Linked DNA regions of Homo sapiens: region 1 is linked to region 2. The links come from fine-mapping of genetic effects on gene expression. A gene starts in region 2. The other region holds a variant in brackets. All regions are shown on one strand. Distances are between the middles of the regions. Region 1 overlaps ASB11 (ankyrin repeat and SOCS box containing 11). Region 2 holds the start of ASB11 (ankyrin repeat and SOCS box containing 11).

The links. PIP is the estimated chance that this variant, and not a neighbour inherited with it, causes the effect.
Region 1: its variant is the best candidate, but not a certain one, in a credible set for the expression of ASB11 in left ventricle (GTEx, PIP 0.89).

Annotation. Positions count from the first base shown.
Region 1 is chrX:15,280,737-15,286,102 of GRCh38, forward strand. ASB11 (ankyrin repeat and SOCS box containing 11) reads right to left here. Exons shown (of 7, transcript NM_080873.3): 7 at 961-2,893. The coding sequence ends at 2,769. Among named protein-coding and RNA genes, the nearest start is that of ASB9, 13 kb to the left of the region's middle. The variant G/A (reference allele first, on the strand shown) is at 2,675.
Region 2 is chrX:15,313,435-15,318,817 of GRCh38, forward strand. It overlaps ASB11 (ankyrin repeat and SOCS box containing 11), which reads right to left and starts at 2,206. Exons shown (of 7, transcript NM_080873.3): 1 at 1,991-2,206. The coding sequence starts at 2,171.

The DNA.
Region 1 (5,366 bases), 33 kb before region 2:
AGGTATCATCTTACCCCAGTTAGAATGGCTATCCAAAAAATAGAAAATAACAAATGCTGGTGCAGATGTGGAGAAAAGGGAATTCTTATACACTATTGGTGGGAATGTAAATTACCACAACCACTATGGAAAACAGTATGGAAGTTTTCAAAAAATTAAAAATACAACATCAAAAGCTATTAATATTTCAAAACAAAAAAATAAAAAATAAAACAAAAAAAGAAGAGGCAGGTGGACCAGTTGAGGTCAGGAGTTTGAGACCAGCCTGGCCAACATGGTAAAACCCCATCTCTACTAAAAATACCGAAAATTAGCCGGGCATAGTGGCAGATGCCTGCAATCCCAGCTACTCCAGAGGCTGAGGCAGGAGAATCGCTTGAACCTGGGAGGCAGAGGTTGCAGTGAGCCGAGATCGTGCCATTGCACTCAAGCCTGGGTGACAAAAGCAAAACTTCGTCTCAAAAAAGAAAAGAAAAGAAAAAAGTTCATGTATTTCATATTCTTTTTTTTACTCAGTCATTAAAATGTAATATGTATTTTACACGTGCAACACATCTTAATTCAGCCTAGCCACAATTCCTGTGCTCATTAGCCATATGTGGCTAGTAGCTACCGTATTGAATAGCACAGGCTTAGAGGTTGCAATGAGCCAAGGTCATACCATTGCACTCGAGCCTGGATGACAAAAGTGAAACTCCGTCTAAAAAAGAAAACAAAACAAAGTTCATAATGTTTCATATTCTTTTTTTACTCAATCACTAAAATGTAATATGTATTTTACACTTACAACACATCTTAATTCAGCCTATCCACAATTCCTGTGCTCATTAGCCATATGTAGCTAGCAGCTACTGTATTGAATAGCACAGGCTTAGAGAAGGGTTTCTCACTCTTGGCACTATTGACATTTTGTACCTGATAATTCTTTTTTTTGTTTGTTTTTCTTTCTTTCTTTCTTTCTTTTTTTTTTTTTTGTTTTGAGACGGAGTCTCGCTCTGTCACCCAGGCTGGAGTGCAGTGGCGTGATCTTGGCTTACTGCAATCTCCGCCTCCCGGGTTCAAGTGATTCTCCTGCCTCAGCCTCCCAAGTAGCTGGGACTATAGGCACCTGCCACCACGCCTGGCTAACTTTTGTATTTTTAGTAGAGACAGGGTTTCACCATAGTGGCCAGGCGGTTCTCGAACTCCTGACAGTGCGATCTGCCTGCCTCGGCCTCCCAAAATGCTGGGATTACAGGCGTGAGCCACCATGCCCGGCCAGATCTGATAATTCTTTGTTGCTGGCTCCTGTGCACTGTAGGGTGATTAGCTGCATCCCTGATCTCCACCGTCTAGATGATAGTAGCAATTCTCCCCCAGTTGTTGCAACTAAACATGTCTGCAGACATTGACAAATGTCTCAGTGGGAGTGGGGCAAAATTGTCTCCAGTTGAGAGCCAAAGGTCTAGAAAAATTGGGGGAAAAAAAAACATGTGTGAAATGAGTCTTAGGATGATCTGAGAGGGAATTTTCATTTTAGAACTGAATACTGAACCATGACAGTAATACTTACAATAATTAAAAGTCTATCCAGTTCCCATGTTCTAAATTCACAAAAAAGAGAAAGAATAGAGGAAGAGGAGGGGTGACAGAAGGAGAGAGAAATGAGAAGAAGGAGAAGACAGAAAAGGAGAAGCCTCTTTTTATATACCTTTGTGCTTATTTTGGGCCCCTATCCACAGAAAAAAATATTGACCCAGCATTGAGCCCACTTTGGTGGCTGGCATCAGTATGTAATTATTTCAAAAACCCTGAGCATCTTGACTTTGAAAATAAGCCAGTGCTTGGGTTGCAACATGCCTCAGACAATGCCTGTGGGTTCAGGTTGTTGGGGACACCCAGTGTTCTCAATCCTAGAACTGCTTACTTCAAATAACAGCATTTAATATCAGAAGCAATAAGCAATAGATGCCAACCTCTGGGTGCACTGATCTCTTCCAAAGTCTCTCTTATCAACCAGGACCGCAGTAACTGGAAGCCTCAGTTAACTACAATGTTTCTGAAGTCCTTAACTTTATATATGTATATATATATAAAGTCTATATAAATATATATAACTTTATATATAAAGAACTTTGAAAACATATATATATAAGCTTTATACATATATTAAGGACTTTGAAAACATATATGAACTATATATATTAAGGACTTTGAAAACATTAAATATATGAGTGCATGTGTGTGTGTGTATATATATACGTATATATATATACGTATATGTATGTATATATATATACGTATATATATACAAAAAATCAAAATTATACCAGATTTATTCAAGGAAAGAAAGAAAAAAAGTGGGGAAGGGCTGAAGGAAGGAACTAAATCAAGAACATATCTTGGAATACCTAACATTTGTTATAATCTTATCCACCTGAATTTATATGTGTCTATACAATATTCAGAATGTTGACTTTTAGGTACAAGAAGATCCCGAATCATCAAAAAACAGCCTATTGTTTTCACTCTACTTCACAGTTCTTTTAAGTTTCTTAACAACAAGAGCTAAAAGCTAAATGGTTTCTACTTGCCCCTTGGTTAATGAGAACATTAAACTAACCAGGAGTTTCCACTCCTCAAGTGTTCTAGCTCATGGGGGATTTACTTCGACTGAGCTCATTTAAAGATACTA[G/A]GAGTCTAAGCTGTTGAGCTTCTACATTAGGTACTCTAGGTACAGCAGACAACAATCTGTGTCATTCCAAGTATCTTCCCAGGAACACTTAGGACTATTGGTATAGGAGGAATCGTTCGAGTGGCTCTGGCAGATGTAGCTTGTGGATGGCTTGATGACATGCTCGACCGAGACACTTCCGGACACACAGGCGGCAGAGCTGGGAAAGAGCAGGTGGGCCTGAGAGAGAAATAAAAATGGTGTTAACTTCATAGTGGTGGGAGGTGGGGTGGAAGGGGGAAATCAGAGAACTGGAAGAGGCGGAAATTTTCTAAAAGCAGAAGAGAAGCTGGATCTGTATAGGAACTATAGAATGAGGTAGCGGACACTAAATACAGACAGCAGATCCTGATTTGCCCCTCTGGAAGGGATGCATTTCTTTAAGTTAATCTTCCAATGGTACTTGGATTACCAATGTTGAAGAATGAAGCTAACCAGAGGCAAGTTAGGAATGAGGTGTGGGGTCTAAAGGGAATGCATCTCATTCATGTATTGAATGTGCCAATGAAAGTGATACACGGGGCCAGGCACGGTGGCTCACGCCTGTAATCCCAGCACTTTGGGAGGCCAAGGTGGGCGGATCACGAGGTCAGGAGATGGAGACCATCCTGGCTAACACGGTGAAACCCCGTGTCCACTAAAAATACAAAAAATTAGCCGGGTGTGGTGGCGGGTGCCTATAGTCCCAGCTACTCGGGAGGCTGAGGCAGGAGAATGGCGTGAACCCGGGAGGCGGAGCTTGCAGTGAGCCGAGATCGGGCCACTGCACTCCAGCCTGGGCGACAGAGCGAGACTCCGCCTCAAAAAAAAAAAAAAAAAAAGAAAGAAAGAAAGAAAGTAATACACTGGCCAAGGAGAAAATGCAAATGGAAGGACTGAACACGCAGGACTCCAAGACACAGCCACAGAACAGAGGGACAATACGGAAAGGGTGTCAGCGGGAAGTTCCACCTGCGTGGTGACAGAGGCAGTGTTAGGAGATGTGCCAGGGGCCAGATATTCAGCCCTCAAAGTACTCCTGGACCTACCGGCTCTAGCTGCCCATGAGGTGGTGCTGGCTGGGTCTCAACTTAAATCTGAAGAGGCCCTTTATTCTTGCAAGGATTCCAGCTCAATAGAGATCTGCAAGAAGGACTCAAGTCAGACCCTATTGTTCCCTGAAACTGAGTCTCATGGACTCTCAAGGAGTCTCACAGAATCATCATGCCCATGGCTTTGAATGGCTCTGAATCCTTAAGGAAAATCAGCTGATGAGAGTCCAGAATATGGTTGAATAGGATGAATGAGCTTTTGGCTGCAATACTAGTTGCACAGTCATTATTTCCTAACCTGACTGTTATCAGTAAAGATCTCTTCAAGAAAACCTAATTACTGGTCTACACAAAGTTTTCCTTTTCAAAAAAATCCACTGTAACAGCATCTCACACCCCATGAAAAATGATGGACTGCATATGCGAATAGCCAGGTTAACATTTGGCTTCACATTGCCAAGGAGCATCCATGAGATAGAAAGCTACCTGGAGGACCAAACAATCGATCTTAGTTAAAATCTTGGGAAGCAAGAATAGAAAACTTCTTTACCTGTTGTCCTACTTAACCTCCTCTGCAAAATGGTAATGTAGACAAATTGTCCAGTGCCCAGAGACACTGACAGGAGAGTGAACTCTGATGTAGTTGGTATTTAATCTTTCTTTTTTTTTTTTTTTTTTTTTGACAGAATCTCACTCGGTCGCCCAGGCTGAAATGCAGTGGTTCAATCTCAGCTCACTCCAACCTCTGCCTCCCGGGTTTAGGCAGTTCTCTGCCTCAGCCTCCCGGGTAGGTGGGATTACAGGCGGGTGCCACCAAACCCAGCTAATTTTTGTATTTTTAGTAGAGACGGGGTTTCACCATCTTAGCCAGGCTGGTCTTGAACTCCTGACCTCATGGTCTACCCGCCTGGGCCTCCCAAAGTGCTGGGATTACAGGTGTGAGCCACCGCGCCCAGCCAGTATTAATCTTTCTAGAGCAAGTGGCTATATTTATGAAGACAAAGGACAGAGGAGCTAGGCCCTGTCCAGGATATCCAGGTCTACAAATCCTAGTCCTAGAAACATTTTTGATGGAAGAAAATAGGAAATGTGAAAACTTCTATAAACTATAGTCTCTGCTAACAGTTGGAAAGTAGCTGGTATTTCCAAGCTCGGATCTGCTGAGGAAGATCATAATTCTTCTGGTGAAGATTCAAATAAAAGAACAATGATTAATGATCTAGACTATTGAAAATAATCCTGGCCAGGCGCGGTGGCTCACGCCTGAAATCCCTGCACTTTGGGAGGCTGAGGCGGGTGGATCACCTGAGGTCAGGAGTTCGAGACCAGCCTAGCCAACATGATGAAACCCCATCTCTACTAAAAATACAAAAAATTAGCTGGGCGTGGTGGCACGCGCCTGTAATCGCAGCTACTCAGGAGGCTGAAGCAGGAGAATTGCTTGAACCCGGGAGGCGGAGGTTGCAGTGAGCCGAGATCACGCCACTGCACTCCAGCCTGGGCAACAAGAGCAAAACTCCGTCTAAAATAATAATAATAATAATAACAATAATAATAATCTAGACCAGTGGTACGCAAAGTGTGGTCCTCAGACCAGCACCATCAACATCACGTGGGAGCCT
Region 2 (5,383 bases):
ATCTTGGTAAATTTGGGGGTGGGGGGATTCGTGTATATGTATACACACACACACACACATATACATATATATATGAAAGAAATAAAACTGGGAAATTAACATGCACCATTCCCTGCCTCTTTAACAATAATTGAAAAATGTTTTTGACCTTAGAATACTATGCTACTTGCAAATTAACCTATTTTAAGAGATTGAACAAGTAAAGATATTTGCACTACAGAATGAACGAACTGTATTTAAGAGATTTGTATTCCAGCTCCAGATTAAATTCAAACCATGCTTACATGGGTTTTGACTATAAGGAGGTTTTATACCTTTTTTAAGAGTGCACTTGAGGCCGGGCGCGGTGGCTCACGCCTGTAATCCCAGCACTTTGCGAGGCCGAGGCGGGCGGATCATGAGGTCAGGAGTTCAAGACCAGCCTGGCCAACATGGTGAAACCCTGTCTCTACTAAAAATACAAAAAAATTAGCTGGGCATGGTGGCGTGTGCCTGTAATCCCAGCTACTCAGGAGGCTAAGACAGGAGAATTGCTTCAACCGGGACCTGGGAGGCGGAGGTTGCAGTGAGCCGAGATGGTGCCACTGCACTCCAGCCTAGGCTACAGAGCGAGACTCCATCTCAAAAAAAAAAAAAAAAAAAAAGAGTGCACTTAATTAAAGACCACAAAGACAGAAATAATGCGCAGGTGCAACAGGAGAAAACATTTGTAACATGTTCTTGCCAATATTGACTTTGTTGGACTTCATCTAATTTAGACCAGAAGAATGATTTATCTATGAGAACACCAAAACTATTATTGAAAATTTTAGAAAGCCCTTGCCCAAATTGACAAATTAAATTAGAAGATAACTTTTCAGATCATGCTTAACTTGAAACTTATCAGAAGCATTACTTTTTTTTTTTTTTTTTGTAACTAGTCAAAGTAACATACCTCCCTGAAATGTGTGACAAATATAATCCCCAAAAGAAATCTCTTTCCATGGTCCGGACCTTCTGATACGTTCTGAAACTTCACAATTCTTCTCATTTTCCCCAGTTAATTGAAGCATTCTGATGCTTCGTCCTTGGAGGTCTTATTTCTTTAGATAAGACTGCTGTTGTCTAGTGTCTTCTGAGTTGTCTAGTGTATTGGAATCACATAAGACTATTTTGAAAGAGAATCCTGGATGCAAATTGAAATGGATACTAGATAAAGAATGATGTAATCCTGGAACCCCTGCAAACACTAAAAATACACGGGGAAATTCTGAACTCTGTTTATGAATAAATACTCCTCTATTAAGTGACAATCCCAGGAGTGACAGGGATATCTGACTCATTTACTTTTGTAGCATCTCACCACAATTAAAGTAAATCATTTCTTGAAAGAAATGGACACTATTCTCTACAAAGCATGAGAATTTAAAATGTTTTGCCCAAATCTTGGCATTTCATGTTAGAATAAACTTTGTTTGGAGTGCTTTGCATGCTACCATATAAAATGGGTTTAGTGAAGAGCTTTTCCTGACAGTGACAAGTGGTTAATCAATTCCAGTTGCAAATGACAGCAAAAAAAATACACATAGCTTGCCACGTTTGCTGCTTTAATTATAATTTATTAGTCATTCTATTTCCTGAGAGAATTTAGTCTGGTTAGAATGCCCTTCATTGTTAAAGTTTGCTTTAAAATATTAAAGAAAATAATTATATACAAGTAATTACTTTGGCTAGTAGAAATGAAGTTTCTCAAAATACTCTTAGTAAGCCACTACCTATTTACTTCTTAAATAACAACTGCTACAAGATCTACGAACTTGCAAAAAATAAAGCTGAAAATCCTCCACAAATTGATGCAGCCAACAGCATTTGCTACTTTAAGTGACAATTTTTCAAACTACCCACTTAAAATCAAAGTATAAATATAATCTGCCTTCCAGAAATACTAGTCATATGAATTATCTAGGAGGGATTTTCTTTAAATATTAGGAACAAATTCATGTACTTTTACCTGAAATTCCACCATAGATCTCTTCTGCTATCCTAGCCGCTTCTTTTCTATTTCCTTTGACGATATAGAAATGGGTTAGGAGAGCCAAAAAAACTTTAATTAAAAGCTTAAAGAAAAAAAACGTAGCAAACATTGTAATAAAAATGTTTTTAAAGCCATAGAAAACAGGACCATCTTCCATTTTGGCTTATGCTCTGTATAGGGTCCTAGGACTGTAAAATTTCACTGAGTTATAATTGGTATCATATGACATCTATTTTAAACCTTCTAGCACTCAGTGCTCCTGTTACCGAGATCTCTGTAGGTTCTAATCTAACTGATTTGGCGACTGCATGTGCTGACTCCACAGCAGTGTTAAATAAACTAAAGAAACTTCCTTCTAACCAGAAACATCCAATAGTTCTAGAACTACATAACTCAGTACTATCTAACAGATAAGATTCATATCCAAACATTTTATATTCCTAAACCCCTATTTTTCCTATTTTATGTTAGAAAGCAGGGTTGGAAAGATAGAAACTTCTTGGCTTCCACAGAAACAAAGCAAGTTATTTGACATACAAAAGAAGTGCAAATATGCTGTATGTTCTAAGTGGGAAATACTACTCCCTGGAGCATTTCATTTTCTCTTAATTCTGAAGTTTATAGAGGATTAAATCCAAATCTAAAATATGACCAGTTAAAAAAGACCATTTACCTGGCCGGGCGCGGTGGTTGACTCCTGTAATCCCAGCACTTTGGGAGGCTGAAGCAGGCGGATCACCTGAGGTCAGGAGTTTGCGACCAGCCTGGCCAACATGGCGAAACCCCCGTCTCTACTAAAAGTACAAAAATTAGCTGGGCGTGGTGGCAGGTGCCTGTAATCCCAGCTACTCAGGAGGCTGAGGCAGGAGAATTGCTTGAACCTGGGAGGCGGAGGTTGCAGTGAGCCGAGATCGCGCCACTGCACTCCAGCCTGGGTGACAAGAGCAAGATTCTGTCTCAAAAAAAAAAAAAAAAAAGACAATTTACCCTAAAGCTGTATGTATGTATGTATGCATGTATGCACGTATGTATGTATTTAGTTTTAAGATGGAGTCTTACTCTGTTGCCCAGGCTGGAGTGCAATGGTGCGATCGCGGCTCACTGCAACCTCTGCCTCCTGGGTTCAAGCGATTCTCCTGCCTCAGCCTCCCAAGAAGCTGGGATTACAGGCATGCGTCACCACGCCTGGATAATTTTCGTATTTTTAGTAGAGACGAGGTTTCGCCATGTTGGCCAGGCTGGTCTCGAACCCCTGACCTCAGGTGATCCACCCACTTTGGCCTCCCAAAGTGCTAGGATTACAGGTGTGAGCCACTGCACCCGGCCAAGCCTGTATTTAATAAAAGGCCTATCTTGGATGCCTCTCCAAGTAAGTGTCACACTAGAAGCATCAGACTACTCGCCATGGTAGTTCCATCTGGGACAAGGTCCCATGGCAAGGTTCCCTCCTGATCATTCACTTGCATTTCAAGCATTGGTAAAGGTGGTGCCCATTTCTGAAAAATGTGGGCTATCCTTGATCATGGAAGAGTCATAGTGAAATGGACAAAAGAGATGCCCTAGGTTCTGGATGAAGTACCCAAATATTTCATGAATCAACCTTCTCTAGTTGGGCAATTTTCTCTTATCAGCTGGCCAACACAAGTGAAATGGGTTTATTTTTAGTTTTCCTCATCACTCTAGGTCTCTGCCTTCATTCTTGGCTATGTTCGATTTTGTAAATTTTAAAAATCAATTGAAAAGACAAGCCAAAATATAGTTATACAAGTGGCCTAATAAATCTTAACAAATGATTTATGCAAAAATATGGGAATTTCTCCTAGCATGCAGGCAAATTAGAATGACTGCCTGGTTAAGAACTGTTTCACTACATTAAAAAGCTGACATGTAAGAATACAATCTTGAGTCACAACATACAGCTCATCGATTTCAGTGTATCAGAGCACTATAAAGACCTTGAGTCGTCTTAACTCTCAAGGAACAGACATTAACATAAGATTTACTTTACTGAGCTTATATTACCTGGTAGAATGCCAGTGTATGAAAATACATGAATACAACTCTTTTAGTCCTTTTCATTTATCTTTCTTCAATTATACTCTAAGTAGGCAATCATTTAGTCATGTCAGACCAGTGATGTACATTGTTCTATAACATTATTCAATCTTGTTTTGGTCTTTTCATTTAAAACATGGCTGTCCTATGTTTTACACGCCAAAAAAGTTGGCCATGAAAAGCTCAACTTTATTAAGGTTCAAATGGGTGTCTATACTATTTCTGAGAGGCCATCTTTTTTTTTTTTTTTTTTTTTTGAGACGGAGTCTCACTCTGACTCCTAGGCTGGAGTGCAGTGGCGCAATCTCGGCTCACTGCAAGCTCCGCCTCCCGGGTTCACGCCATTCTCCTGCCTCAGCCTCCCAAGTAGCTGGGACTACAGGTGCTCGCCACCACGCCCAGCTAATTTTTTGTATTTTTAGTAGACACGGGGTTTCACCGTGTTAGCCGGGATGGTCTCGATATCCTGACCTCGTGATCCGCCCACCTCGGCCTCCCAAAGTGCTGGGATTACAGGCGTGAGCCACCATGCCCGGCAAGACCATCTTTACTATATTTGAACATTACATTTGTGATGGGCATAAAAGGCTACTGATACATAAGGACAGTTGATTCATGCTATCTTTCACAGATGAAATCATCAACAGCACCAAGGTTTCTCAGCCTCAGCACTATTGACATTTTGGGACAGATACATGTGTTGTGGGGGATGGCCCAGAGCATCGCGGAATGCTTAGCAGCAACCCTGACCTCTACTCACTTGATGCCAATGCCCCACCCCACCTAGTAGTAACAACCAGACATTGCCAGATGTCCCCTGGGAAACAAAACTGTCCCCCCAAGCCCTAGTTGAGAACCACTGAGCCATACCCAAATAGAAATGATAAAGGATAAAAATCAGTTCCCCCAAGTACTAAAGGCTACAAATCAAATTCTACATAGAACTTTTTCATAATTTTATATTAAAAAATCCAGCCACAGGATGATACAATTCAACATCTAGCCACATCCATTTGGGAATGCAGAGATGGATAAAGAGGCTTTAAAATTACTTCACAAAAGTAAACACAGACCTATACTACCCTGACTTTGCCAAAAATAAGTTTTGGCATAAGATAAATCAAAACATAAACATAGGTGACTGCTTTCCACTGCTTCCCACAAAAGGAGTGGGAGAAACTAAATCAGGGATGTCCAATCTTTTGGCTTCCCTGGGCCACGCTGGAAGATTTGTCTTGGGCCACACATAAAATACACTAACAGCAGATCATGAGATCAGGAGTTCGAGATCAGCCCGGCCAAAATGGTGAAACC